Linked DNA regions of Homo sapiens. The protein of the gene in region 1 interacts with the protein of each later gene in a biochemical or structural test. Each region holds a gene or a part of one and is shown on either strand. Other genes may lie near its edges.

What was found.
Region 2: of the proteins of DRD4 (region 1) and KLHL12, one has a biochemical effect on the other in vitro, tested with the Homo sapiens proteins (2 studies listed by BioGRID, with this or other methods).

The regions. Positions count from the first base shown.
Region 1 is NC_000011.10:624,806-641,238, forward strand, and holds DRD4 (D(4) dopamine receptor), read left to right. Parts: upstream 1-12,463; 5' UTR 12,464-12,499; coding exon 12,500-12,784; intron 12,785-14,627; coding exon 14,628-14,740; intron 14,741-14,842; coding exon 14,843-15,501; intron 15,502-15,595; coding exon 15,596-15,798; 3' UTR 15,799-15,901; downstream 15,902-16,433. Other genes in the region: CDHR5 (cadherin-related family member 5 isoform 1 precursor), read right to left, coding at 13-97; SCT (secretin preproprotein), read right to left, coding at 1,626-1,725, 1,892-1,984, 2,083-2,184, 2,268-2,338. UniProt on the Homo sapiens protein: Dopamine receptor responsible for neuronal signaling in the mesolimbic system of the brain, an area of the brain that regulates emotion and complex behavior.
Region 2 is NC_000001.11:202,890,620-202,905,065, reverse strand, and holds the end of KLHL12 (kelch-like protein 12), read left to right. Parts: intron 1-8,105; coding exon 8,106-8,212; intron 8,213-9,348; coding exon 9,349-9,544; intron 9,545-10,316; coding exon 10,317-10,475; intron 10,476-10,783; coding exon 10,784-10,882; intron 10,883-11,640; coding exon 11,641-11,827; intron 11,828-12,406; coding exon 12,407-12,533; 3' UTR 12,534-13,946; downstream 13,947-14,446. UniProt on the Homo sapiens protein: Substrate-specific adapter of a BCR (BTB-CUL3-RBX1) E3 ubiquitin ligase complex that acts as a negative regulator of Wnt signaling pathway and ER-Golgi transport.

The DNA.
Region 1 (16,433 bases):
GCCCGCACATACACTGGGCCTGGGCCATGGTCCCCGGGGGTCGGACGAGCAGCCCGGTGAACAGCAGGGGAGGCCACAGCAGGGCCCAAGACCCCATCTTGGCGGCTGTCACCTGGCAGGAGGGTCTGAGCGGGTCTGGCGTCTAGGACTGGCGCAGTTCCTACCTCAGCGACCTTCGCCCCAGCCAGACGCCGCCCAGTTTATGATCCTTTACGACCGGCTTCTGCCAAGGGGGCTCCCGCTGGCCGGCTGGTCCAGCCCACTGCCAGAAGGAGGGGCAGTCGTTTGGCCCAAGTTGGACTGAGTGCAGGGGTCAACCAGGGGGCTCAGGTCACAGGCACCGAGGCACAGGGCAGAAGGGACTGGAGAGCGGCTCATGGGTGCCGTGGGGGTAGGGGCAGGGCAGGGGCAGGGCTAGGGTGTGGGAGAGAAGCTGGGGGCTGGGGGCGGGGGCTCGGCCCTTGGTGTCGGGGTGTCTGGAACCTGCCTCCCTAGCCCAGGCTGCCCTGGCTTGGCTCCTCCCCTAAGATCTCCCTCAGGCAAAGTTCCTAAGGCCACCCCTTGAGGCTCAGAACCCGGGTGTTCCCCAGGGAGCACCTCCCTCCCTGCCTGACAGCAGGTTCTGAAGGAAAAGGCTCTCCTCACTGTGTCCTGGGGACACCCCTGCCTGCCCCAGAGACAAGTCGGCTTCTCAGGGCGGGGCTGGACAGGGCCTTAGTGACTGAGGCTAAGGCGGGGCTGTGAGGGGCAGCTGGGAGTTCCTGGGGGGCCCTGGTGCCCGACAGAGGGGGTGAGGTGAGACTCGACACTTGCCCTGCTCTTTTCATTGGCCCCCCAGAAGCCCCCAGCTCTAGGGAGAGGCCACTGGGTAGGGTCGGGGCGAGGAAGTGGCTGTCGTGAGGGGTAGGTGGAGTTCTCCTCCTCCAGGCCTGTGCGCCGAAGCTTCTGGCCTCTCATGGCTGGGGCTGGGCTCAGTGTCCTAACCCTGCACGGTGCCCTCATGGTCGCCTTCAAGCCCTGCACGCTCCGTGCTCCACAGGCTCTGAGGGGTCAAGCCACTGGTCCGAGGCCACACGAGACAGAGGGTCCGGAGTCCTCACGCCAGAGTGGATTCCTGGCACCCCAGGTGACACCTCCACCCTCCCCTCTTCCTGCCCGCCTGAGCCCCCCTGGCCCCTTCACACCCTCCCCACTACCCCTTACAGAAACACTGACCACATGGGCCCCCGGGCAGGAGCTGAGAGGGTGTCCGGGATCCCCCGAGCCCCAGAATGTTTCCTAATGGATGACAAGGGGTGGGGCGGGGCCCTGCAGTACTTAGTCGAGGTACAGGAGGTGGCCCTGATGCCAGAGATAAGGATGAGGGGCCGCCGTGCCTGCAGGTGTAAAGGGCAGCTGGGTGTGGTCAGTCCCTCCTGGGTGGATGGGCCTCCATCCATCCCTCAGCCCCGCTACACAGGGGTTGCCTCGATTACACTGAGTGGACACAGACAACTCCCAGCGTCTGGGTCTGATTCCTCCTTTATTGGTGCCAAGTACCACCCCTCCCCCTCTCCCCCATCCTGCCCCCCACCCCAAATGCAGCTGCGCTCCTGGGCCGGGCAGGTGGTGAGGGGGTTCCTTCCTCATCTGGGCCGCAAGGTTCCTTCTGCAGCAGCGCCAGCTGGTTCTGAAACCATAGGCCCAGGGGGCAGCCAGGGAGACCAGGTCCCGTCCAGGGGCATCCTGCAGAGACAGCACGTGAGGGTCTGAGGGCTGGGGCTGGAGACCCCGGCCCCGCTGCTGGAATTGGGCCTCCAGTGGCCACCAGCGCTGACCCGGGGAGGCCAGGACAGAAGGAGGGGTCTGGGGTGGGGTCTGGAGTGGGGTCTGCGGTGGGGCGGGTGCTCACCAGGCCTGCAGGATGGGCATGTTGGACCCTGACGGGCAGAGCAGACCCGCGCTGAGCCTGGTCCAGGCCATGCTGTTCTCTGCGTCCTGCTCGCTGCCCCCCGCCCCAAAACAGAGTTAGTCCTGGAGCTGGGGGGTCGCGCGTTGCTGCTGGGGCACCACGCCAGGACCCCCCACCCCACCCGGCCTCACCTGCGCTTCCCCACCAGGCCCTGTAGCAGCCGCTGGAGCCGCGCGCCCTCCCGCAGGCGGCTGAGCTCGCTGGTGAACGTCCCGTCTGAGTGTCGCCGGGCCCTGCGGGCGGTCGGGGGTCGGGGTCAGGGCGCACTGGGGGCGGGTGGGGCCCGGGGGGCGGGCGGGCCTGGCGGGCGGCTCACCTGGGGGGCGCGGGGCGCGCGGCGGAGCCCCCGAGGAGCAGCAGCAGCAGCAGGAGGGGCCGGGGGGCCATGGCGGGGTCGGGGCGCAGGAGCTGAGCGCTGCGGCCACGGCCCCGGGCCCCCGCAAGGCCCCTTTATGGCGGCGCCCGGAAAGGGGACGGCCCGGCCGCGCCCAGCGATCCCGGGAAGGTCAGGGCCGCCCCCCCAGCTGTCGCCCCGGCCCGGCCTCCCGCCCCCTCCGCCGCGCTGGCGCCCCTCGGCCGGCTGGGGGAGGGGGACGTCCCGGCCTGGGGGGCGAACGGAGCGCGGGCCTGGGACCCGCAGAGGGAACCGCACCGCGAAGCCTCGGAGCCTGCGGGGGCGGAGGGGCCGGAGGGCTTGGGGGAGGGTTTGGGGGGGGACTGGGGGGCCCCGGGGAAGGGGCTGCGGCCGGAGTTCCGGAGGCCCCTGGAGCACCTTGCTGGGGCGAGTTCGTCTCCAGCTTCAGCGTGGCGTGACTGTTGGGGGGCCGGTGTTGCCATTTTATCTGCTTTGAAGTGCGCGATTCAGGATCATTCGGTGCATCCATCCCCACCATCCGTTCTCAGACTTTCCCGTCCTCCCAAAATCCGTTCACAGACGCTCCCGTCCTCCCAAAATCCGTTCACAGACGCTCCCGTCCTCCCAAAATCCGTTCACAGACGCTCCCGTCCTCCCAAAATCGTTCACAGACGCTCCCGTCCTCCCAAAATCGTTCACAGACGCTCCCGTCCTCCCAAAATCGTTCACAGACGCTCCCGTCCTCCCAAAATCCGTTCTCAGACTCTTCCGTCCTCCAAAAATCCATTCTCAGACTCTTCCGTCCTCCCAAAATCCGTTCTCAGACTCTCCCGTCCTCTCAAAATCTGTTCACAGACGCTCCCGTCCTCCCAAAATCCGTTCACAGACGCTCCCGTCCTCCCAAAATCCGTTCACAGACGCTCCCGTCCTCCCAAAATCCGTTCTCAGACTCTCCTGTCCTCCCAGAATGAAGCTCTGTCCCCATCAAACGCCCCCTCCCCTCCTCAGCCCCGGCGCCCCGTCCACTTTCTGTCTGTGGATTCAGCGCTTCCAGGGACTGCGCGCAGGGGGAGCCTCACGGGATTTGTCCTTTGGAGACCGGCTGGATTCTCAGCGCAGCATCCTCCGCCTTCGCCGCCGCGGCCTGGCCTGTGTGGGAATCTCCTTCCCTTTTGTGGGGAACTGTGTCCCGCTGTGTGCAGGGACCGCATCGACCGCGTCCGCTCATCTGTGGGCATCTTGATGGACACCTGGGCTGCCTCCCCTTTGGGGCGACGGCGAGTAACGCTGCTGTGAACGTGGGTGTGCAAACGGCGCTTCCCGATCCCGTTTTCAAGCGTTCTTGGTGTATAGTTATGAGGGAATTGCTGGGTGACAGAGTAATTATGTGTTAAATATTCTGAGGAAACGCCAAACTGTCTTCCCAGCAGCGCAGCAGGGACACGGTTCTTGTCCTCGCCAACACTTGCTACTTTGTGGCTTTTTGTTTGTCGCGTACTAACGATGCCGGTGGGTGCGACGTGGTGTCTCGCTGCGGTTTTGATTGGCATCTCCCTAATGGCCAGCGATGTGGAGCATGTTCTCAAGTGTCTGTGAGCCATTTATACATCATGGAGTGGACGGAGAAATGGCCGTCAAGCCCTTTGATGTTCTGCTGTGGTTGCGAGTCATGCACTGTATCCGTCTGTTAAATCAGCCACAATATTTTCCCCAGCGTTTGCATCATTTCACAGCCCCGCCAGCAATGTGGGGCTGGCTGGCTGGCTGGCTTGCTGGCTTGCTTGCTTTTCTTTCTTTCTTTCTTTCTTTCTTTCTTTCTTTCTTTCTTTCTTTCTTTCTTTCTTTTTCTTTCTTTCTTTCTTTCTTTCTTTTTTTCTTTTTCTTCCTTTCTTCCTTTCTTCTTCCTTTCTTCCTTTCTTTCCTTCCTTTCTTTCTTTTTCAGAGGGAGTCTCGTTCTGTCACCCAGGCTGGAGTGCCGTGGGGCCATCTCAGCTCACTGCAACCTCCGCCTCCCGGTTTCAAGCAGTTCTTGTGCCTCGGCCCTCCAAGTAGCTGGGATTACAGGTGCCTGCCACTATGACTGGCTAATTTTTATATTTTTAGTAGAGACAGGGTTTCACCATGTTGCCCAGGCTGGTCTGAAACTCCTGACCTCAAGTGATCCACCTGCCTCGGCCTTCCAAAGCACTGGGATTACAGGCGTGAGCCACAGCGCCCGGCCTCACTTTCTCTGCACACTGTCAACATCCCTGCAGTCGCTATTTTTAACCTTCAGCCATTCTCTCTGCGGCAACACCTCCTTGTGGTCTTAGTTGCATTTCCCCAGTGGCGGGTGATTCCGAACCTCTTTCCAGGTGCTTGTTTCCATTTGCATGTTGTCGTGGGTTAAATGTATCTTCACATCTCTTGCCCGTTTTTAAATTGTTCTCTACTGCTGAGTTTTGTTTTTTTTTTTATTGTGGGAAAACATGCATAACATGAAACTTACCATTTTAGCCATTTTAAAGTATGAAGTGATACTTAGTACGGTCACGGAATTATACAACCAGCACCGCTGTTTAGTTCCAGAACTTTTTACTCCCCAGATGGAAAATCTCAAATCCATAAAGCATTTACCTCCCCTTCCCCCATCCCTTCAGCTCCTGAGTAACAATGAATTTACTTTCTGTCTCTGTGGATCTGCCTGTTCTGGGTATTTCATACCAATAAAATCCTAAAAGCTGGGCATGGTGGTACATGCCTGTGGTCTCGGCTACTTGAGACGGTGAGGCAGGAGGATGGTTTGAGGCCAGGAGTTCGAGACCAGCCTGGGAAACATAGCAAGACCCTGGTCACTATTTTTATTTATTTATTTATTTTTATTTATTTGTTTTGAGATGGAGTTTCACTCTTGTTGCCCAGACTGGAGTGCAATGGCGCGATCTTGGCCCACTGCAACTTCCGCCTTCTGGGTTCAAGCAATTCTCCTGCCTCAGCCTCTGGAGTTGCTGGGATTACAGCACCACCATGCCCAGCTAATTGTGTACTTTTCATGGAGGCAGGGTTTTGCCATATTGGTCAGGCTGGTCTTGAACTCCTGACCTCAGGTGATCCGCCCGCCTCAGCCTCCCAAAGTGCTGGGATTACACGCAGGAGCCACCGCGCCTGGCCCCAGAATTTCATTCATTTTAATGGAAAAATCACACTGCATTTGGTTCATCCATTCACCTGCTGAGGACGTTTGGTTTATTTCTACCTTGTATATATTGTGTTTGTTTGTCTGCTTGAGACAGAATCTCGTTCTGTTGCCCAGGCTGGAGTGCAGTATATGATCTCCGCTCACTGCAACCTCCGCCTACCAGGTTTAAGTGATTCCCCTGCCTCAGCCTCCTAAGTAGTGGGACTACAGGCATGCACCACCACACCCCCTAATTTTTGTATTTTTAAAAAATATTTATTTATTTATTTACTTTAGAGACGGACTCTCACTCTGTCACCCAGGCTGGAGTGCACTGACCTGATCTCAGCTCACTGCAACCTCCGCCTCCCGGGTTCAAGCTATTCTCCTGCCTCAGCCTCCCAAGTAGCTGGGATTACAGGCACCTGCCACGCCCGGCTAATTTTTGTATTTTTAGTAGAGACGGGGTTTAACCCTGTTGGCCAGGCTGGTCTCCAACTCCAGGTCTCAGGTGATCCACCCGCCTCGGCCTCCCAAAGTGCTAGGGTTACAGGCATGAGCCACTGTGCCCGGCCAGTACTTTGTGTATTTTCAGTGGAGATGGGGTTTCACCATGTTGGCCAGGCTGGTCTTGAACTTCTGGCCTCAAGCAATCTGCCCACCTCGGTCTCCCAAAGTGCTGAGATTACAGGCGTGAGCCACCATGCCCGGCCCCTTTTGTATATTGTGAATAGTGCCGCTGTGAACATTTACATACAAGCTTTTATTTGAACACCTGTCTTCACTTCTTTTGGGTATGTAACATACCCACTGAGTCATATGGCAACTCTACGTGAAACTTGTTGAGGAACTGCTGGACTTCTTCTCACAGTGACCATTTTATATTCCCAAAAGCAGTGAATGTCTCCTCATCCTTAACACTTGGTATTTTTATTTATTTATTTATTTATTTATTTACTACCATGGCCATCCTAATGGATATGGAATGGTATCTTACTGTGGTTTTGATTTGCATTTCCCCAGTGACTAATGAGGTTGAGCATCTTTTCAAGTGCTTTGTGGCCATTTGTGTGTGACATATGTATATTTTTTGTTTGTTTGTTTGTTTTGGGGACGGAGTCTCGCTCTGTCACCCAGACTGGAGTGCAATGGTGCGATCTCGGCTCATTGCAACCTCCACCTCCCAGGTTCAGGCGATTCTCCTGCCTCAGCCTCCTGAGTAGCTGGGACTACAGGTGCCCGCCACCATGCCTGGCTAATTTTTTTGTATTTTTAGTAAAGACGGGGTTTCACCATGTTAGCCAGGATGGTCTCCATCTCCTGACCTCATGATCCGCCCACCTCGGCCTCCCAAAGTGCTGGGATTACAGATGTGAGGCACCGTGCCCAGCCATATTTTTTTTAAGACAGAGTCTCGCACTGTTGCCCAGGCTGGAGTGCAGTGGCGTGTTCTTGGCTCACTGTAACCTCTGCCTCCCGGGATCAAGCGATTGTCCCACCTCCGCCTCCCAAGTAGCTGGGATTATGGGCGCCCGCCAGCATACCCAGCTAATTTTTGTATTTGTAGTAGAGACGGGGTTTCACCATGTTGGCCAGACTGTTCTCGAACTCCTGACCTCAAGGGATCCGCCTGCCTCGGCCTCCCAAAGTGCTGGGATTACAGGCGTGAGCCACTGAACCCGGCCATTTGGGTATCTTCTTTGAAGAAATGTCTATTCAAGTCCTTTACTCATTTTCATTATTTATTTTATTTTGAGACAGGGTCTCACTTTGTTGCCCAGCTTGGAATATGTTGGCTCAATCACAGCTCACTGCGGCCTCAACCTCCTGGACTCAAAGGATCCTCCCACCTCAGATTCCCAAAAAGCTGTGACTATAGGCTCACGCCACCACACCCAGCTAATGTTTGTATTTTTAGTAGAGATGGGGTGTCTTTCTTTTTTTTTTTTTTTTGAGACAGAGTCTTGGTCTGTTGCCCAGGCTGGAGTGCAGTGGCACGATCTTGGCTCACTGCAAGCCCCGCCTCCCAGGGTCACGCCATTCTCCTGCCTCAGCCTCCTGAGTAGCTGGGACTACAGGTGCCCGCCACCACGCCCGGCTAATTTTTTGTAATTTTAGTAGAGACGGGGTTTCACCATGTTAGCCAGGATGGTCTCGATCTCCTGACCTTGAGATCCGCCCGCCTCAGCCTCCCAAAGTGCTGGGATTACAGGCTTGAGCCACCAAGCCTGGCCTGTTGTGGAGGATCTTCTATACATAAGACCATGTCATCTGCAAGTAGAAATAGTTTTCTTTTCCAATTTTGGATACCTTTAATTTCTTTTTCTTGAGTAATGCTCTTGCTAGAATGTCCAGAACAATGTTGAACAGAAGCAGCAGCAGTGGGCATCCTTGTCTCTTTCAAAGGCTTTTTGTTTCTCACCATTGAGTATGATGTTAGCTGTGTTTGTATTTTGTTTGTTTGTTTGAGACAGTCCCCCTCTGTCATTCAGGGTGGAGTGCAGTGGTGCGATCTCGTCTCACTGCAGCCTCCACCTCCTGGATTCACGTAATTCTCGTGTCTCAGCCTCCTGAGTAGCTGGGACTGTAGGCGTGCGCCACCATGCCCAGCTAATTTTAATTTTTGTATTTTTAGTGGAGATGGGATTTCAACATGTTGGGCATCTGGTCTTGAACTCCTGATCTCAAGTGATCCACCCGCCTCGGCCTTCCGAAGTGCTGGGATTACAGGCATGAGTCACGGCGCCCGGCCTGATGAAGTTTGTTTCTATTCCTAGTTTATTGAGTCTTATTATCATGAAAGGGTTTTGAATTTTATGAAATGGTTTTTTCTGCATCAGTTGGGATGATCGCGTGGGTTTTTCTTCATTCTGTTAATGTGGTGTATGACATTGAATTTCGTCTGTTCGTTCACCCTTGCATTCCTGGGATAAATCCCACTGGGTTATGGTACATAATCCTTTTAAAAATGCTGTTTTTCGGCCAGGCACTGGCTCACGCCTGTAACCCCAGCACTTTGGGAGGCCAAAGTGGGCGGATCATGAGGTCAGGAGTTTGAGACCAGTCTGGCCAACAGAGTGAAACCCTGTCTCTACTAAAAATACCAAAATTAGCTGGGCATGGTGGCACGTGCCTGTAGTCCCAGCTGTTCAGGAGGCTGAGGCAGGAGAATAGCGTGAACCCGGGAGGCAGAGGTTGTGGTGAGCCGAGATCACACCACTGCACTCCAGCCTGGGTGACAGAGTGAGACTCCATCTCAAAAAAAAAAAAAAAATGCTGCTTTTCTGGCAGGCAGCACTTTAAAAGGGACTGTGTTTGCTCATATTTTTTCGAGAACTTTTGCATCTATATTCATAAAGGATACTCATTTGGAATTTTCTTTTTGTGATATCATTACTGTTGAGTTTTGAGAATTATTAATCTTTTTTGTATACAAGCCATTTGCTGGATATATGATTGCTAATTTTTAAAAAAAATTTGTTTCTTTTTTAATTTTAATTTATTATTTATTTATTTATTTATTTATTTATTTATTTATTTTGAGACGGAGTCTCGCTCTGTCGCCCACGCTGGAGTGCAGTGGTGCGATCTTGGCTCACTGCAAGCTCTGCCTCCCGGGTTCACGCCATTCCCTTGCCTCAGCCTCCCGAGTAGCTGGGACTACAGGTGCCCGCCACCACGCCTGGCTAATTTTTTGTATTTTTAGTAGAGACAGGGTTTCACTGTGTTAGCCAGGATGGTCTCGATTTCCTGACTTCGTGATCTGCCTGCCTCGGCCTCCCAAAGTGCTGGGATTACAGGCATGAGCCACCTCGCCCAGCCTATTTATTTATTTTTTGACACAGAGTCTTGCTCTGTTTCCCAGGCCAGAGTGCAATGACGTGATCTCCGCTCACCGCAACCTCTGCCTCCTGGGTTCAAGTGATTCTCCTTCCTCAGCCTGCCAAGCAGCTGGGATTACAGGTGCACACCACCACGCCCGGCTTTTTTTTTTTGAGACGGAGTCTTGCTCTGTCACCCAGGCTGGAGCGCAGTGGCACAATCTTGGCTCACTGCAATCTCCGCCTCCCGGGTTCATGCCATTCTCCTGCCTCAGCCTCCTCAGTAGCTGGGATTACAGGTGCCCGCCACCACGCCCGGCTGATTTTTTTGTATTTTTTAGTAGAGACAGGGTTTCACCGTGTTAGCCAGGATGGTCTCGATCTCCTGACCCTGTGATCTGCCTGCCTCGGCCTCCCAAAGTGCTGGGATTACAGGCGTGAGTCACCACGCCTGGCCAATTATTTGTATTTTTAGTAGAGATGGGGTTTCACTATGTTGGCCAGGCTGGTCTTGAACTCCTGACCTGGTGATCCACCTGCCTCGGCCTCCCAACGTGCTGGGATTACAGGTGTGAGCCACTGCGCCTGGCGTAGACAACCCAATTTTTAACAAAAGCAAAGATTTTTAACAGGCACATTCCAGAAGAGGGCATGCTGACAGTTAACAGGCACATGGGAAAAGTGGTCAAACATGAGTAGCCATCAGGAAAATCAACGACGTCCTACTACACTAAAATGGAAGAAACATTGCCAGACGTGGCCATTTGCAAATGTCGTTTCCTGGTCTGTGTCTTTTGATTCTCCTGACAGCATATTTGAGTTAATTTTTTAATGTGTAAGGTATGAGTGGAGGTCCTCATTAAAAATTGTTTAGGCTGGCTGTATGGCTCATGCCTGTAATCACAGCACTTTGAGAGGCTGAAGTGGGAGGATCATTTGAGCCCAGGAGTTTGAGACCGGCTGGGCTAACATGGCGAGACCCCGTCTCTACAAAAAATAAGAAAATTAGCTGGGTGTGGCACCACGCATCTGTAGTCTCAGTTGTACAGGAGGCTGAGGCCAGAGGATCACTTGAGCCCAGGAGATTGAGGCTGCAGTGAGCCATGATTGCAGTAAGATGTGATCACATCCAGTTACATTTGATTTTCAGATAAACAACAGAAGTTTAGTGGAGGCTGGGGGCAGTGGCTCACAGCTGTAATCCCAGCACTTTAGGAAGCTGAGGCAGGTGGATCACCTGAGGTCAGGAGTTCGAGACCAGCCTGGCCAATATGATGAAACCGTGTCTCTACTAAAAATACAAAAAAATTAGCCGGGCGTGGTGGCGGGCGCCTATAATCCCAGCTACTCAGAAGGCTGAGGCAGGAGAATCGCTTGAACCCGGGAGACGGAGGTTGCAGTGAGCCAAGATTGTGCTGCTGCACTCCAGCCTGGGTGATAAGAGTGAAACTCCATCTCAAAAAAAAAAAAAAAAAAAAAACAAATTGGGGTTGTCTGTCTTTTCTCATTGTTTCCATTGTTTCTGGATCTGTGTGTCAGAGATGTGTGCTGCACACATCCTTTCTCCGCCTAGCTTGGTTTTCACTCTTGGTGGTCGCAGACATCTTGGGGGCTACTTGAAGGAACTCTAAGCCGACCAGAGGCTGGGCTGGACTCGCCGTTTGGCGCCCAGCCGGAGACCCCAGGGCCACCCTCCCCGGTTCCATCCTGGGAGAGAAGAAACTTCCACTGTCCCAGTCTCTCCTGTGGTGACTTCTTTTGCTCAAGGGTTCACAAGGGCAGCAGACTGATCTGCACAAGAGGGACTGAGCCTGGCTGCGGCCGCACCTGATGCCTGTGCACACCTGTCCCTGGTGGTCTCTCCTGTGGTGACTTCTTTTGCTCAAGGGTTCACAAGGGCAGCAGACTGATCTGCACAAGAGGGACTGAGCCTGGCTGCGGCCGCACCTGATGCCTGTGCACACCTGTCCCTGGTGCAGGCCCTTCCCCCGCAGCCCCGTGACCTTGTCCTGTGAGGCTCACGGTGCCTGCTCCTTCTCAGAGTCCTCATTTCTCCCTTTAACGCACGCCCTGTCAGCGCCTCCGTCTAGCCCGTGTCCTCCAGACCTTCGAGGTCAGGGGCCTCAATTCCTGGCACAGCCCCTCCACTCCAGGCCTCCCAGAAACAGACTAGAGCATCAGGATGTGCGCCGCCTGGGGTCCCACAGAGTGGTGCCCCCTTTTAGTGTCTTCTAGGCCCCTTAGTGACAGACTACAGAAAATACCTCTCAGGTCACAGGTCACCCCTCTTTGGTGAAGAGTCCATAGAATTCTCTGCTGCGCTTTGCAAGCACTTTCTCTTCTGCACGTTTGGAACCTACCCCGGCCTGTCGTGTCTTTCTCCTGGCCTCCTCGCGAGCCGAACCTACTGTCCGGTCCCGGGACCCCCTGCCCAGGGTCAGAGGGGCGCCTACCTAGCTCACGGTCTTGGGCCGGAGGGAATGGAGGAGGGAGCGGGGTCGACCGCTCAGCTGTCCGCCCAGTTTCGGAGGCGGCCACGCGAGGATCAACTGTGCAACGGGTGGGGCCGCGGCTGACCGTGGTGGTCGCGGGGGCTGAGGGCCAGAGGCTGCGGGGGGGGGGCGGCGGGATGAGCTAGGCGTCGGCGGTTGAGTCGGGCGCGGAGTCGGGGGCAGGGGGAGCGGGCGTGGAGGGTGCGCACGAGGTCGAGGCGAGTCCGCGGGGGAGGCGGGCAGAGCCTGAGCTCAGGTCTTTCTGCGTCTGGCGGAACGGGCCTGGGAGGGAGGTTTTGCCAGATACCAGGTGGACTAGGGTGAGCGCCCGAGGGCCGGGACGCACGCACGGGCCGGGTAGGATGGCGCTGGCGTCGATGCCCGCGCGCTTCAGGGCCTGGTCTGGCCGCCCCTCCATCCTTGTCGGTTTCTCGGGTCGCGGACCCCGCGCGGCGCCGGGCGATGCTGGCCTGCCCGTGGCCACCACCTCGCTTCATTCCCGTCTCTTTGGGCCGCCGCATTCGTCCACGTGCCCGTCTCTCCCTGCGCAAAATTCCAAGATGAGCAAATACTGGGCTCACGGTGGAGCGCCGCGGGGGCCCCCCTGAGCCGGGGCGGGTCGGGGGCGGGACCAGGGTCCGGCCGGGGCGTGCCCGAGGGGAGGGACTCCCCGGCTTGCGACCCGGCGTTGTCCGCGGTGCTCAGCGCCCGCCCGGGCGCGCCATGGGGAACCGCAGCACCGCGGACGCGGACGGGCTGCTGGCTGGGCGCGGGCCGGCCGCGGGGGCATCTGCGGGGGCATCTGCGGGGCTGGCTGGGCAGGGCGCGGCGGCGCTGGTGGGGGGCGTGCTGCTCATCGGCGCGGTGCTCGCGGGGAACTCGCTCGTGTGCGTGAGCGTGGCCACCGAGCGCGCCCTGCAGACGCCCACCAACTCCTTCATCGTGAGCCTGGCGGCCGCCGACCTCCTCCTCGCTCTCCTGGTGCTGCCGCTCTTCGTCTACTCCGAGGTGAGCCGCGTCCGGCCGCACGAGCATCCTCACCTGCTCCTCGGTTCCCCGTCCCTGTCCCTACGGAGGACCCGGCGCGACCCGGCCCCTTTCTGGTGCGGAGCTTCCAGCTGGGGCGGCGGCAGGGGCGCTGCGCCTTGTCCCTCGGCGATACACCCACCGCCGCCACCTCGCGACCTTCCACCCGCTGCGCTGTCTGTCCCCCGACCCTCGTTCCTCTTCTCCTTCCCCGTCTGTCTTGGCGTCTGTTATCCAGGAGATGCCCGTCCTTCTATCCAGGGACCCCGGAAACAGGCGACTTTGTCAAGCCCAGTCCCCTCCGTAGCTGGATTTCACCTCCAGGGCAGCCAGCTGGACAGACAGGCAGATGCAGGCTCAGCCCCCTGGCTGCCGTGGGACACACACACACACACACTGCCACAGCCACTGCCCACCACACACACCTAGTGCAGATGCTGGCACACCCCCAGAAGGAGGCTCACAGCTCGCAGGGGAGACCTGGGCTGGACAAAACCCAGGGGAGGGGAGGGTGTGTGGGGACCAGGCCCCTGCTGAGAACCCTGGGGGGAAGCCTGAGGGGGAATTGGGGGATGGAGCCCACACTCCACACCAGGTCTGGCCCTCGAGTGGGTCGGCCTTGGTGCCAGCCCCTCTGCGGCCAGAGAAAAGCAGCTTAGGGCTGAGCTGGAGACGCGGTGTCCCCGACTGTGGGGGAGGGGGACTCGAGGTTTCCCCTTGATGGACACAGTGAATCCAGGCGGCTGGGGCAGAGACCAGCAGCACGGGACACGCGTGACCTGTGCTCCTTTCGAGCCGCAGACGTCACAGTGACGACGTTTAAGCTCCTAATCTCCCCAAATCGGCGGGAAGGATTAGAGGGGCTGCCTGCTCCTTTGCCCTTGGAGAGAGTCACTCCACGTGGAGTCCTACGCTGGGCACTGGGCACGGTCTTCATATTTTTAATTATAATTTATCTTCAAGACAATTATGATGTGGATACTATCATCACCCTTGTCTTACAGATGAAGAAACAGAAATGAATTAACGTGCCCGAGTCTCCCACAGAGAACTTAGCCAACAGAGCAGCCAGCTTCGCTTCTAGGCCCAGCGGGGACCCTGCCTACCCCAGGCTGGGGAGGGGCTCCCTTTGAGCCCGATGATATCAGGCCCGCCCCCAGGGAATTCCCCAGGCCGTTCTCATGTTTGTAACAAAAGGGAGACCAAGGCCAGAAGCCGTGATTCACGCCTGTAATCCCAGGACTTTGGGAGGCAAAGGCAGGAGGATAGTTTGAGACCAGCCTGGGAAACATACCAGGCCTGGTCTCTACAAAAAATTTTAAAATATCAGCCGGGGGTGGTGGCTGCGGCTGTTGTCCCAGCTATTCGGGGGAGCTGAGGCGGCAGAATCGCTTAAACCTGGGAGGCGGAGGTTGCAGTGAGTTGAGATCTCACCACTGCACTCCAGCCTGGGCAACAAGAGCGAAACTCCGTCTCAAAAAACAAAAAGAAAAACAAATCAGCCGGGGGTGGTGGCGCGCGGCTGTAATCCCAGCTACTCTGGAGACTGAGGTGGGAGGATCGCTTGAGCTCAGGAATTCCAGGCTACAGTGAGCCATGATGGAGCCACAGCACTCCAGCCGCGGTGACACAGCGAGACCCTAACTCAAAACAAAGGGAGATCTGCGTGGGGAAGGGGTGTTTCCCTGCCCGGTCCTCTGGCCTCTGGCTCACAGCCGGGCCCCCTTCTCCGTATTCAGCCCTGGAACTACCCATAAGAGTGGGGGCGGGTCACAAGGGCCCGCGGTGGCTGGGAAACCTCAGGGCCTGTGGTGTCGCCGCGCAGGTCCAGGGTGGCGCGTGGCTGCTGAGCCCCCGCCTGTGCGACGCCCTCATGGCCATGGACGTCATGCTGTGCACCGCCTCCATCTTCAACCTGTGCGCCATCAGCGTGGACAGGTGCGCCGCCCTCCCCGCCCGCGCCCCGGCGCCCCCGCGCCCCGCCCGCCGCCCTCACCGCGGCCTGTGCGCTGTCCGGCGCCCCCTCGGCGCTCCCCGCAGGTTCGTGGCCGTGGCCGTGCCGCTGCGCTACAACCGGCAGGGTGGGAGCCGCCGGCAGCTGCTGCTCATCGGCGCCACGTGGCTGCTGTCCGCGGCGGTGGCGGCGCCCGTACTGTGCGGCCTCAACGACGTGCGCGGCCGCGACCCCGCCGTGTGCCGCCTGGAGGACCGCGACTACGTGGTCTACTCGTCCGTGTGCTCCTTCTTCCTACCCTGCCCGCTCATGCTGCTGCTCTACTGGGCCACGTTCCGCGGCCTGCAGCGCTGGGAGGTGGCACGTCGCGCCAAGCTGCACGGCCGCGCGCCCCGCCGACCCAGCGGCCCTGGCCCGCCTTCCCCCACGCCACCCGCGCCCCGCCTCCCCCAGGACCCCTGCGGCCCCGACTGTGCGCCCCCCGCGCCCGGCCTTCCCCGGGGTCCCTGCGGCCCCGACTGTGCGCCCGCCGCGCCCAGCCTCCCCCAGGACCCCTGCGGCCCCGACTGTGCGCCCCCCGCGCCCGGCCTCCCCCCGGACCCCTGCGGCTCCAACTGTGCTCCCCCCGACGCCGTCAGAGCCGCCGCGCTCCCACCCCAGACTCCACCGCAGACCCGCAGGAGGCGGCGTGCCAAGATCACCGGCCGGGAGCGCAAGGCCATGAGGGTCCTGCCGGTGGTGGTCGGTGGGTTCCTGTCCTGAGGGGCGGGGAGGAGAGGAGGGGGGGGGTACGAGGCCGGCTGGGCGGGGGGCGCTAACGCGGCTCTCGGCGCCCCCAGGGGCCTTCCTGCTGTGCTGGACGCCCTTCTTCGTGGTGCACATCACGCAGGCGCTGTGTCCTGCCTGCTCCGTGCCCCCGCGGCTGGTCAGCGCCGTCACCTGGCTGGGCTACGTCAACAGCGCCCTCAACCCCGTCATCTACACTGTCTTCAACGCCGAGTTCCGCAACGTCTTCCGCAAGGCCCTGCGTGCCTGCTGCTGAGCCGGGCACCCCCGGACGCCCCCCGGCCTGATGGCCAGGCCTCAGGGACCAAGGAGATGGGGAGGGCGCTTTTGTACGTTAATTAAACAAATTCCTTCCCAAACTCAGCTGTGAAGGCTCCTGGGGGCTGATGGGGAGTGGGGAAGAGGGGTTTCTGCCTCAGTGGCCCCAGGCCCCCCAGCCAGTTAACCTCTTTCTCCCCGCCAAGGAAGCCCACAGAGCAGACCCCACCAAGCCGGCCGCCTGCTCAGGGTGAGGGGGGAAGGGGCCCCCGAGAGCCACTCAGTTCCGCAGCGCTGGGGCCCAGCTTCCCCTCTCTGCAGGGGAGAGGAAGCAGCACCCAGCAGGGCAAGGTGTCTCCTGGGGAAGCCCAGTTCCGATGGGAAGAAACAAATGGGGAGAGGCGGGGTGGGGGGCTGTCAGCCGCCAGGCCCTGCCCGGGCCAACTCCCACCTCTGAGAACCAGGCACAGGGGGCTCCAGGCTCATGCTGCCCCAGCAGACCCCGGCAGGGGAGCCCAACCTGTCATTTTAGAAGCTGCCTTGAGGCCAGAGCCTAGCTTCCTGCCAGTCCCTGGCCAGAGGATGCCCCAAGCCCCACAGCAAGGGGCCTGTGGTGATGGGTGGGGCCCCACC
Region 2 (14,446 bases), on another chromosome or scaffold:
TAGCAGGTAGATTGTTCTTACCATCATGTCCTCTACCCATCTCTATGCATATTGGCTGCTAAACCAGCTACCAGGATAATGACTCTTCTGCATACAGCAGAAGGAAATTAAATTGACAGCCAAGTTAAAATAGCCTGCCAAATAAGGGATTTTTAGTTATTAACCTTACCCATTACTGTCTCAAAGAAGATATAATGGAAATTACTTTTCTAATTTGTGGCTGTCTCCTTTTTTGAACTAAAGATCAGTGCAAATGGAAATGTGAGTCTCTGAACCCTGTTATTTTAGCAGTCCTGCATCTGCCTTATTTCTCTAACAACGTGTCACAGCACACACACACTCCCCTTCCCCTCTTTCTAAAAATAATGACCATGCCACTGCCAGGTTCTTCAGTTTTAGAAATGTGCTTTTTCACACTGTTCTTGTAAGATGTCCTAGACAAGCTTTTCTCATTAAAAAGATAAAAATCTCACTTAACAAGTACTCCATCATTGGCAGAGAACAAACAGGCTTCTTTCAGGTTGACTCTTTCACTAGCTTTTTTTTACACGAGTCAGATTGTTTGAGTATTGGTCTCCAACTTAGGGTTAAAACATTAAAACCTTAGGAGTTCTTCTGGGGAAGAAGGACTTTCTAGGCACAAAATAGTGGAAGAAATGACAAAGAATAAAAACATATTTGAATAAATAAAAAAATCATATACAAAATTATGATAAATTAGGAACATAGGTTTGGAACAACCCTTTAAAGGGTTAAAGGGTTGGCCTGGCAGGGTGCCTTACGCCTGTAATCCCAGCGCTTTGGGAGGCTGAGGCAGGTGGATCACCTGAGATCGGGAGTTTGAGACCAGCCTGACCAACATGGAGAAATCCTGTCTCTACTAAAAATACAAAATTAGCCGGGCTTGGTGGCACATGCCTGTAATCCCAGCTACTCGGGAAATTGCTTGAACCTGGGAGGTGGAGATTGTGGTGAACCAAGATCGTGCCATTGCACTCCAGCCTGGGCAACAAGAGCAAAACTCCATCTCATAGATAGATAGATAGATAAATAGATAGATAGATAGATAGATACATAGATAGATAGATAAAGGGTTAAAGGGTTAAAACCATTTGTGTGTAAAGAGCTCATAAGAATGCATGAGACAGGGCCAAGAGCAGTGGCTCACACCTGTAATCCCAGCACTTTGAGAGGCTGAGGCAGGCGATGGAGCCCAGGAATTCGAGACCAGCCTGGCCAACAGGATGAAACCCTGTCTCTACTAAAAGTATAAAAATTAGCCAGGCATGGTGACGCATGCCTGTAATCCCAGCTATTGGGGAGGTTGAGGCAGGAGAATCATTTTAGCCCAGGAGGCAGAGGTTGCAGTGAGCCAAGATCACACCACTGCACTCCAGCCTGGGCCACAGAGCAAGACGCCGTTTCAAAAAAAAAAAGAAAAGAAAAAAATTAGTGGTCCCAGCTACTAGGGAAGCTGAAGTGGGAGGCTAGGAGGATGCTTGAGCCCAGGAGGTCGAGGCTGAGGCTGCAGTGAACCATAATTGCACCAGTGCACTCTAGCCTGGGCAGCAGAGCAAGACCTTGTCTCAAAAAAGAAAAAAAAAACAAGAATGCATGAGAGAAACAATAAAGATTTGAGTGTACAGTTCGCAGAAGGGCAAGTAAAGCTGGCTACTAGATACAAGGGAGGGAGTTCAACCTAATTAATAATAGGGTCTTATTAGTTATAAAGAATTAAACATAATTTTTTGCCTACCAGAGTGTCAGAGATTTAAAAACTATCCAGTGCCTCAGAAAGTAGAATGAGTTGGCACCTTTATAGTGTTGGTGGGAGTGTAATTGGTAACAGCTTCAAAAAGTCACCTTATGTCTCAAAGTAATTTTTTTTTTTTTTTTTTTTTTTTTTGAGACAAGGTCTCACTCTGGCTCCTAGGCTAGAGTGCAGTGGCATGATCTTGGTTCACTGAAACTTCACTTTCTGGGCTCAAGCAATCCTCCCACCTCAGCCTCCTCAGTAGCTGGGACTACAGGCGTATGCCACCATGGTGATCTATTTCATTTGTTTGTTTGTTTTGATACAAGGTCTCACTGTGTCACTATAGTGCAATGGCATGATTTTGGCTCACTGCAGCGTCCACTTCCTGGACTCAAGTGATCCTCCCACCTCAGCCTCCCAGGTAGCTGGGACTTGGGACTACAGGTGTGCACCACCAGACCTGGCTAATTTTTTGTATTTTTAGTAGAGACAGGGTTTTGCCATGCTGCTCAGGCTGGTCTTGATCTCCTGGGTTCATGTGATCTGCCTGCTTTGGCCTCCCAAAGTGCTAGGGTTACAGGTGTGAGCCACCATGCCTGGCTCAAAAAATTTTTTTCTAATTCAGGTTCATTACTCAGCATTCTTCCCATTTCTTTAAGAAAACAACCAGGAAAAGTTTCATATTCAGGATATTTATCACAGGGTTATTTATGTGATTGTTTATAACCCAAAATTATAAACCCTGAAATGCCTAAGAATATTATAACCATGTACTAAAAGAGTTATTCATATATTTGGAAAATGAAAAACATCAGGATACAATATAATATGGTCACATTTGTAGGTTTTTTTGTTTGTTTGTTTTTGGTGTTTTTTTTTTTGGACGGAGTCTCGCTCTGTTACCCAGGCTGGAGGGCAATGGTGTGATCTCGGCTCACTGCAGTCTCCACTTCCCAAGTTCAAGCGATTCTCCTGCCTCAGCCTCCCGAGTAGCTGAGATTACAGGCATGTGCTACCATGTCTGGCTGATTTTTGTATTTTCACTAGAGATGGGGTTTCACCATGTTGGCCAGGCTGGTCTCGAACTCCTGACCTCGTGATCCACTCATCTCAGCCTCCCAAAGTGCTGGGATTACAGGCGCTAGCCACTGTGCCCGGCCCCCATTTGTGTTTTATAAATGTGCAGAAACAAGGCTGGAAGGAAATTATGTTACATTTTGGTGTGTCTTTGTATTGTGGAACTATGGGTAATTTTTTTTTCATAATACCTGTCTGTATTTTCCAAGTTTTTTAGCAGTAAAAATGTATATTATATGTTTTATAATCACAAGGAAAATACTTTTCAATTCTTTTCAACAGGGAGGGGTAATACGTGAGTGGGGATGGTGATTATACTAGTCCTTGAGTTATTTTTAAATTTTCTAAAAGAAAATCATTTTTGTGCTAGAAAAAGCTGAACAGGCTAAATAAAGACTTCAGATTTAACTAAAATTATATCCATTCAGTGTGAAACACTGTTGCTCTCATAGTTATCAAAAGCTCTGTTGGCAGTTGCGGGGAAGTTAATTACTTAAACTCACTTTGGTAGACAGTCTGTCAAAACACAGGATCTGTCGGGAAAAATAATGAAGAGAGTCCTTCACAGCAAAGAAGTTTGGGAATCAGTGATCGAAGGATCCCAGCCATTTAGAGCCATAAAACCCCTGAGTGGCTGGTACAGTGGCTCATGTCTGTAATCCCAGCACTTTGGGAGGCCGAAGCAGAAGCATCGCTTGAGTTCAGGAGTTAGAGACCAGCCTGAGCAACATAGTGAGACCTCCTCTCTTTAAAAAATTAAAAAAAAAAAAAAAAGGTAGCTGGGTTTGGTGGCACACACTGTGCTCCCAGCTGCTCAGGAGGCTGAGGTAGGAGGATTGCTTGAGCCTGGGAGGTAGGAGGATTGCTTGAGCCTGGGAGGTCGATGCTGTGGTGAGCTGAGATTGTGCCACTGCACTCCAGCCTAGGTGACAGAGGAAGGCCTTGTCTTTTAAACAGAACAAAACAAACTCCTTTATACATCACACCAACACCTCTTACGAAGTTCCACTGTAGACATATAGTTACCAGAGTGTTTATTGGGAAAATTTCAGCCAACAGGAAGTACTGTCAGTTATCTGTGTTTTTAATATAATCTATTTCCTTTCTACTTCTTTTCTCCCACCCTTCAAAAGGTGCCTGAATGAAATCATATCAAGAAAGAGAGGGGTTTTTTCTTTATTTTATTTTTGAGACAGTCTTGCTTTGTCACCCAGGCTGGAGTGTAGCGGCATGATCTCGGCTCACTGCAACCTCCGCCTCCCAGGTTCAAGTGATTCTCCTGCCTCAGCCTCCGGAGTAGCTGGGACTACAAAATGCACACCACCACACCTGGCTAATTTTTGTGTTTGTATTTGTGTTTAATTTTTTTGAGACAGAGTCTTGCTCTGTCACCTAGGCTGGAGTGCAGTGGTGCGATCTCTGCTCACTGCAACCTGCATCTCCCAGGTTCAAGCGATTCTCGTGCCTCACCCTCCCAAGTAGCTGGGACTACAGGTGTGTACCACCACACCTGGCTAATTTTTGTATTATTAGTAGAGATGGGGTTTCACCATGTTGGCCAGGCTGGCCTTGAACTCCTGACCTCAAGTGATCCACCCGCCTCGGCCTCCCAAAGTGCTGTGATTACAGGCGTGAGCCACCACGCCCAGCCTTCTTTATTTTATGTTACTTTATTTTATTTTTTGAGACAAGTTCTCACTCTGTTCCCCAGGCTGGAGTGCAGGAACACGACCTTGTTCACTGCAGCCTTAACCTCCTGGACTTAAGTGATCCTCCCATGTCAGCCTCAGGAGTAGCTGGGACTACAGGCATTTGCCATCACACCTGGCTATTTTTTTTTATTATTTTTTTCTAGATATGGGAGTCTCACCATGTTACCCAAAGTGGCCTCGAACCCCTGGGCGCAAGGAATCTGCCCACTTTGGCCTCCCAAAGTGCTAGGATTATAGTCATGAGCCACTGTGCCTGACTTCTTTAGATATATATATTTATTTTTGGGGGGTTGGGGGGTGGGGCAGGGAGTTATATAAAGCAACAGAAATAAGAGCTGAAAAATCAATAGAAAACTTTAAAATTTGCATAGCACAGGAAGTACCTCTTGGTTGGTGTGGGAATTTTTATTCATACATACATCATCTGCTGGCATATTCATCTACATGGGAAATGTGTTTGGATAGAAGGATCACACTTACCTTGTCTATTCAAGTCAGGAAGAAAAGAGGTGGAGTAAGAAAAAGGAATAGGTAGGGAAATAGTGTTCCCAAAGAAGAAACAAATAACTTGTGGTCCTAGCTTCTCCCAACTTGAAGTAATTTTAGGCAGACATAAAATTACTTCAATCACTAAAGAACCCTTCATTCTTATGCTTTGATTTTTTTATTTATTATTATTATTTTTTTTTTTTTTTTTTGAGATGGAGTCTTACTCTGTTGCCTAGTCTGGAGTGCAGTGGTGCAATCTCGGCTCACTGCAACCTCTTCCTCAGTTCAAGTGATTCTCCCGCCTCAGCCTCCCAAGTAGCTGAGACTACAGGTGCGCATCACTGCACCCGGCTAATTTTTGTATTTTTAGTAGAGACGGGGTTTTGCCATGTTAGACAGGCTGGTCTTGAATTCCTGACCTCAGACAATTTACCTGCTTTGGCCTCCCAAAGTGCTAGGATTACAGGCATGAGCCACACCTGGCCATGCTTTGATTTTCGAAGGAGCTGACTCCTGAGACCTACTTGCTGGCTCACTTTGGAGAGGGTCCACTTTATTTGGCAAGTACATAAGACAAGTGCCCTCTTAGAAAAACTCCGTGGTTTATGTGTGAGTGTATATGTTTTATTAAGAAAAATCTCAAACATAAAAATAGTAATATAATGATCCCCCATACCCATCACTCAATTTTAACAATTATCAACACATAGCTTTTTCTTTGAGATGGAGTTTTGCCTTATTGCCCAGGCTGGAGTGTAGTGGCGCTATCTCAGCTCACTACAACCTCCACTTCCTGGGTTTAAGCATTCTCATGCCTGAGCCACCCGAGTAGTTGGGATTTCAGGTGTGCGCCACCACACTCAGCTAATTTTTGTATTTTTAGTAGAGACGGGGTTTTGCCTTGTTGGCTAGGCTGGTCTCAAACTCCTTACCTCAAGTGATCTGCCAGCCTTGGCCTCCCAAAGTGTTGGGATTACAGGCATGAGCCACTGCACCCAGGCTATTTTGAAGCAAATTCCAGACTGGATATTATTCCATGCCTATGTGTCATACTTCCACGTGTGTCTCTAAAAGATAAGGAAAAAAAATTCTGCCACATCTAGAATGCCATTATCACTGTTTAAAATCACACAATTCCTTATTCTCACGTGTTTGTGTAATTTTTTTTCCATAATTTTTTGTTGTTTGTTTTTGAGTACTTATGTTGTTCAAATCAGAATCCAGACAAAGTCCACACGTTGCTCGTGATTTCATGTCTCTTTTCAGTCTCGTTTTAATCCAAAAGTTTCCATCCTGTTTTGGTTTTTCCCAGCCAGTTTATTTCTTGAAGAAGCCAAGCTGTTCGACCTGTAGAATTTCCCACATTCTAGACTCTGCTGTTGCATCTTTGTAGTGTCATTTAACATGTTCTTCTCCCATGTATTGCCTGTAAACTAGTGGTTGGATTAGAGGCTTGTTAAGAGTCAGGCTCAGTTTTTTGGAAAAAAGACGAGGTGGTAGTGTGGTCCTTCCTATTCATCACCATTAGGAAGCACTCAATGTCTCATAGTAATATATTGGCTTTTGAAATAATGATTCTAGCCCAGCAATTGATGATAATTGTCAAATCCATTACTTCATTAGGGGTTTATCTGTGTTTCCTGTCAGCTTCAAGGTACTACATTTGCTCTTTCAAGTCCAGGTTACTCATAAGATCACTTTGGTCTCCTAGATGCTTCCTAGTGATTGAATTTTCCAAAGCTCCAGCTAACTATTCTCTCCATGAGTTCTAATGGAGCACATGCACAGGGGATTTTCTCAAAGAGACTTTGCTCTTTGAAAAAAGCCAAGGCAGGTGCTGTGGCTCATTCCTGTAATCCCAGCTACTTGGGAGGCTAAGGCAGGAGTATCGCTTGAGGCCGGGAGTTTGAGACCAGCCTGGGCAATATAGCAAGACCCTGTCTCCAAAAGCCAAGGTAGGAAATATTTTATCAGAGTAAGGCGTTAGGGGAAGGGGAAGATATAAAGGCTGTCAGAATAGCTTCTTTGGGAAAATAGAGAAAAAGACTTTTCCTTTAAAACTCTAGTCTTTTGTTGCCTGGTGGTTTTGATGAATTGGCAGGGAATGTGATCATATAGTTGACTAAATTGGAGAAGGAAGTGTTCATGGAAAAGAGATTTTAGGCCAGGCACAGTGACTCATTCCTGTAATCCCAGCACTTTGGGAGGCTGAGGCAGGAGAATCACTTTAGGCTAGGAGTTTGAGATCAGCCTGGGCAATATAGCGAGACCCTTTCTCAATTCAGAAAAAGAAAAAGAGATTTTAAATCCATCACTTGGATCCTAAGTTTCAACATGTAGCTTTTTTTGTGACAAGGTTAGGAGAGTTCTTTCCCCATTACAACAAAAAACCTCCCAATTTGAGTTTTTCAGGCTAAGTGCAGAGAGTGCCTTTAGGCTCTCACCTGCACTTAAGACCTCAAGGATTATGTCAGCCAGTCATCTCAATAGGTTGAAATGGTGCAGTGTTGCCGGGCACAGTGACTCACACCTGTAATCCCAGCACTTTGGGAGGTCGAGGCTGGCGGATCACTTGAGGTTGGGAGTTCGGGACCAGCCTGACCAACCCCATCTCTACTAAAAATACAAAATTAGCTGGGCGTGGTGGCACAGCCTGTAATCCCAGCTACTCGGGAGGCTGAGGCAGGAGAATCACTTGAGCCCAGGAGGCAGAGGTTGTGGTGAGCCGAGATCATGGAATTGCATTCTAGCCTGGTCAACAAGAGCGAAACTCTGTCTCCAAAAAAAAAAAAAAAAAAAAAAAGAAAAAGAAATGGTGCAGTGTCATGTTGAAGTTTGCTTTCTAGAGTTTTAATGTCCAGAAATTTAAGTTTCAGAGACTCGAGAGCTACAGCCTCAAGGAAAAATAACTCCCCATTCGACAGCCTTATGATTATCTCCCATTTCGGATTGCATCCCTCAGCCACATAAAACAAGACATCCTAGAACTGTTTCTGTTGACACTTCCCTGTGACTAGTTACCCATCCAGGGATGCTGAACTAACCCATCTTTTTTCTGCCTTTGTCTTCAGGAGCCAATGAAGTGCTTTTGGTGGTTGGGGGCTTTGGAAGCCAGCAGTCTCCCATTGATGTGGTAGAGAAATATGACCCCAAGACTCAGGAGTGGAGCTTTTTGCCAGTAAATAATGGTGAAACCATTCGTTGGGAGGGATGTTAAATGTCCTCAGTCTCTGCCTCCAGATCATAGCTAATCCAGCCTTAAGAGTAGAAAAGCCTAATAACAGGATGTTTCTTACAACAGTCTTGTGCATATAGTAGGTACTTACTTAACAGTTTTTGACTGTTTAGATTAGAAGATTATGCCTTAGAAATGTCAGTGGCCCTGTGTCAAGGTAAACTCAGATGGCCACCACTAGTTAGGTGCCTTTCTAAGCTGTCTGTATAATTCCTAGCACATTTCATTGGTCGTGCTGTGTTAAACTGAACTGAATGTTAAATTGTGTTGAATTGAACCCAGTGTTCAGTTGAGCTCAGAAGTTTGGGCTGGGCGTGGTAGCTCACACCTATAATCCCAGCCCTTTGGGAGGCTGAGATGGGAGGATCTCTTGAGGCCAGGAGTTCAAGACCAGCCTGGGCAATATGGTGAGACTCTGTCTCTACAAAAAAGTAAACAAAAAAATTAGCCAGGCATGGTGGTGCATGCCTGTAGTCCTAGCTACTTGGGAGGCTGTGGCAGAAGATTGCTTGAGCCCAGGAGTTCGAGGTTGCAGTGAACTGTGATTGTGCCACTGCACTCCAGCCTGGGTGATAGTGAGATCCCAACTCAGAAAAAAAAAGTTTGTATCTGTCTCCCTCAGCATGTCTCTCAGTGCTGAATGAACAATAGTAATTTCTGAGAAAACATGGAAATCCAACCCTCCTACCTTTTAAGGTTCTTATAATAAATCCTCATCCTTTGATTAGCAATGTGGGAATACTTTTCTACTTTATGGAAGGATATCAGTCTCTTAGCCCAGTGCCTTATGGAAGAGAAAGGAGTCAGATATTGGATAACAGAAAGCTGTTAAATCTTTTGGAAGCCTTGGAAAGAGGCAGAGATGCAGAAAGCTTGTATCTTTAAGAGCACCACAACAGGCATTTCGTTCAGTAGGTAGCTATTTGGGAGCCACTTGAGGATGAACCACTTAAGGAGGGTTCATGATGACAGGTGAAGAAGCAGAGAGGTGTGCAGATACAACAGGGAAGATAGCAAAAGGTAAGGCCCAAAACTTGCCTAACTGAAATGCTCTGTACCTCTTCTCTCCAAATCCATAGAGCATCACTCGTAAGAGACGTTATGTGGCCTCAGTGTCCCTTCATGACCGGATCTACGTCATTGGTGGCTATGATGGCCGTTCCCGCCTTAGTTCAGTGGAATGTCTAGACTACACAGCAGATGAGGATGGGGTCTGGTATTCTGTGGCCCCTATGAATGTCCGACGAGGTCTTGCTGGAGCCACCACCCTGGGAGGTAGGCTGGATGTGCAGGGCAATTATTTCCATCTTACTGTGGCTGGACCAGGGTTTTTAACCTCTCCTGTTGTCTGGCAGGAGCATGAAATACGGAGAAAAAATTAAGGTCAAATGTTATTATTATTTGAGACAGGGTCTCTCTCTGTTGCCCAGGCTGGAGTGCAGTGGTGTGATCACGGCTCACTGCAGCCTCAACCTCCCCAAGCTCAAGCGATCCTCCCACCTCAGCTTCCTGAGTAGCTGGGACTACAGGCATGCACCACCATGCCCAGCTATATTTTTGTATTTTTAGTAGAGATGGGGTTTCGCCATGTTGCCCAGGCTGATCTCTAACTCCTGAGCTCAAGTGATTGACCCACCTCGGCCTCCCAAGGTGCTGGGATTACAGGTGTGAGCCACTGTGCCCAGCCGACAAATACTCCTTTTTGCTTTCAGAAATATCAGTGTAATAGAAGCTGTTCAATATTCATGGATGTTTCATTATTGACTACAAAGTTGGCAAATCAAGTTCCAATGTGCTGGGTGGGGAACTGGCACTAGTTGTGTTTTTGCAAACTCCTAGGTGGTCTTTGAATGCTTTTAAGGATTTTGTTTTACCCCATTCTTTTTAGATGTCTTCCTTGTCTATAAAACTTAATTGACTTATCTCATTTAAAAATACTTTGTTTTTGCTCTCAGACTTTTAAAGGACCCTTGGAAAATTTGTAGAGGAAAGAGTTCTTAGAAATCTCTCATTCTCTAATAGTCTGTAATTTGTTTATTCTGAGCAGATATGATCTATGTCTCTGGAGGCTTTGATGGAAGCAGGCGTCACACCAGTATGGAGCGCTATGATCCAAACATTGACCAGTGGAGCATGCTGGGAGATATGCAGACAGCCCGGGAAGGTGCCGGACTCGTAGTGGCCAGTGGAGTGATCTACTGTCTAGGTATTGAGTCTGGGATGCAGGAATGGGAGGGAACTCAATGGGTAATGGGCTGTGGGTAAGGATTCCTTTTTACCAAAATGACGTTCATAGACTTCCCTTCAACTAAAACCCTGGTGTGTCTTAATATATTTTCCATTAATTGGGATTATCTTTTTCTTATAAGCATAATGTCAGATTTCTCTTAGAGTTATTGGAACTCTTGTGGGAAAATTGAAACTAAAATAATTAGTTGAAGCACTCAGAAAAAAACCGACCAGGAATGGGCATGAGGATTTACCACTCTTTCTGGAATGGTCTCTGTCTTCCAGGAGGATATGACGGCTTGAATATCTTAAATTCAGTTGAGAAATACGACCCTCATACAGGACATTGGACTAATGTTACACCAATGGCCACCAAGCGTTCTGGTAAGACCAGATCTGAGGGAGGGGACAATAGGCGATGCTGTCAGACCTTTACATATATAATGGTGGTGCATGGGACAAACCGTAGATTAATGTAAAAATGAGATTCTGCTCTCCTCCTTGTCTCTGTTTTCTCTAAATACTAGGATAAAGACAGTTGATACTTACAACTAGATTATAAATTTGAAAGCAAAAGCCTTCATGTCTTTGTTCTCTCCCTACGTTTTAGAATATCTAGTACAATTTTGCCTGTGTAGTACATGCTTAATAAATATCTGTTAAATAAAGTCTCTAATGCATAAGGACAAAAGAGTAGCTACTTACCTTCACCAAGAGCTTTTTGAAGTGGAGCAGGCTGGGATATAGAAAAGGAGAGAGCACTGTGCTGTTCTAGTTTACTTACTCTGGGTAAAAATTGCTTCAGAACCATAATCACAACTCCTTTCCCTCCATCTACCTTTATTGCCACCTTTTTTTCACTTCCTCCCTTTCTCCTAATTAGAAGGGTTGGGCTCTGAGTTAATGAAAGTAAAGAAGAGAACCATTTTTATTATTTATCTTTTATCATTTCAAGTCCAAGCCAAAGGGTTTATAGATGGAATAACTTGTGCTGGACTAGATTATTCTAGGCCCGTGTGGGCCCATTCCATATCCCTCATCTACTGTAGAACTCAGCTAGTCATTAGTGACCGTAGTTTATTTCTATAATTCAGATTCTAGGCTTAGTACCATACATTTGCTAATGCATTCATTTTCCCCAGGTGCAGGAGTAGCCCTGCTGAATGACCATATTTATGTGGTGGGGGGATTTGATGGTACAGCCCACCTTTCTTCCGTTGAAGCATACAACATTCGCACTGATTCCTGGACAACTGTCACCAGTATGACCACTCCACGATGCTATGTAGGGGCCACAGTGCTTCGGGGGAGACTCTATGCAATTGCAGGGTGAGGATTTAGAAACGAATCCAGACTCAATATGTAGCCAGAGCAAGAGTCTATGTGATCTGATCCTCATTTTTGGACAGAGACAAGACTTGGGTAGGGGTAGACATCTCCAGTGGCAACTTGATTTTTTTTATTAGATTTTTTTTATTTTTTAGAGACAGAGTATTGCTCTGTCACCCAGGCTGGAGTCTGAGTAGAGTAGCTGGGACCACAGGTGCACGCCACTGTGCCAGACTAGTTTTTTATGTTGCCTAGGCTGGTCTCCAACTCCTGGGCTCAAGCAATCCTTCCACCTCAGTCTCCCAAAGTGCTAGGATTACAGGTGAGAGTCACCATGCCTGGCCTCCAGTGGCAGCCTTAATGAAGGACTTGTGTGGAAAGGAATAGAAGGCTAATTTCTTTCTTTCTTTCTTTAAATTTTATTGAGACAGGGTCTCACCATGTTGCCCAGGCTGGTCTCAAATTCCCTCCTGGGCTTAAGCAATCCTCTTACCTCAGCCTCCTGCATAGTTGGGATTACAGGCACGTGCCACTGCACGCAGCTGACTCATTTCTTTCTTTTGCTTCTTTCCCACTCAGATATGATGGTAATTCCCTGCTAAGTAGCATTGAATGTTATGACCCTATCATCGACAGCTGGGAAGTCGTGACATCCATGGGAACCCAGCGCTGTGATGCTGGTGTTTGTGTTCTCCGCGAGAAGTGACCATTGTTGGAGCACCATCCAGAGCTAGTGACCAGTCCAGTGGACAGTTAGTGGGAGAATCAAAAATCCTTTCCAGAATGTCTGTTTCTCACTATGTGCACCGGGTGATTACAGGCACCAGTGCAGTGATGATTGTACTTATTTGACACATACTCCCCGTCGTCCTGGTTCTTGTTCCTGAGAAGGGTGGGTAACAGATATTCCAGGAAAAAGAATGCACATTGAATGGATGTGAGAGACCACATTGCCTCTCCCACTGCTTTGGGGAGCACTTTCCTGTCATTTCTAACTTACCACATGCTTGGTGTACTATATGTATGTTGTGCCTCATATGTTGCAAAGAACTAAGGTGAGTATAGCCTACTAGATATGGGCAATATCCAGCCTAGATGATTGGAAAGATACCAGTTTAAGTAAACTTGGTAAAATCCAAGTCTTTTTTTTTTTTTCCAGGAACAACTACATTTTCTCATATACAGGTAGCTAGGGGCAACACAGTTCCATTCTAGAGGGAAACAAAAGGGAGAGCCCCACAAAACTTTGGGGACAAGGGAGAGAGAGACTCATCTGACACTTCTTTTGGAGGTCAGGATTTGTATATCAGAATTGAAGTTAGAATTAAGTGAATTAAACTGAATTTGATTGTGAGTGAACCTAGAACAGCACTGAAGTATTACATAACCTGGAAGACTGAGAAGGGTATATTATTTGAAGGATCTTTTTATTTCCCCGAGGTCTTTCGCACTGGAGACAGCATAAAAGAGTGAACAAATGTTGGGATGAGAGAAGATGACATCAATGTGGGAGTTCAGTATAACTGGGGATAAACTAGAAGAACCTGTGATTTTACAGTCATCTTATTACCTGCCAGGGCTCATCTAGCCATGGCAATGTTTGCCTTGAATGGGGGTGAAAGCCTTTCTTTGTTGGATCAAATACTACTACACTATTACACTTCCACACTATTTATTTGGGGATGGGCTGGGAGTGACAGTAGCCTAGTAGTTCAGCTACCTGATTACTGCCCCATTCTTTTAGAAGCACATGTCTGCCAAGGAGTGGTTTGTACTGCTGTGTTTGGTACATCTAGTCTTTTTTCTGCTATAAGTTTTCCTTACCTGTCCTTTAGTGTAGATTTTATTCATCACAGGACAGAATAATCAAGGACAACCAAAATCCTTTTGTTAGTTTCAGTACCTCAGCTATCAACATTTCTGAGCTACCATTCAATGTTCCTCTGTGTCATGGAGTGAAATTCTTGTTTTGTGGGTATTAGGAGTGTGGGAATGTGATAACCTAAACAACCTTTGCTCTGAAATTCCATTTTTCCCTCTTTCCCTGAGTTGTATTGACCTACAGAGTTAATTTCCTTTGTATTTTTTTAAGAAAATATTAAAAATCAACGGTCTCAAATGCCGAGAGTTTGTGGCTAACCAACATTGCCTTTAGTAGATATTTGGGAGGGAAAGATGTAGGGATCAGCCGTAGCTCCTGTCTCTTCAAGCTGTTCATCTTGTGTGTTTGCCAACTAGTTCCGCTATTTCTATGTTAGACACAGGTAAGAGGTAGCCACTTTACACTTTGGAGATTCTCATCAGTAAAATATTTACCTGATTTGCCATATTCATTAGCCCCTCTGACGCTTGGAGTTACTTGAAAAAGGAATACAGAAAAGATCTTGAATTCACTTAGCACGCGCTTGAATTTCAGGGTTTCAGTCACACCAGTCCTTTTTTCCATTTGCTTTGAATTGTGGCATGTGATATAAACAGCTATGCGGAAGGCCTGCAAAACTGAAACAGTCCTGATGCTTCCAGAGCAAAAGGAAGGAGGAGCCACATGAGGAAGTTATTTTCCTTAAAAGATGCCTACCAACTTTGGCAGATGGATTGTGCATGCTAATTAAACCAAAG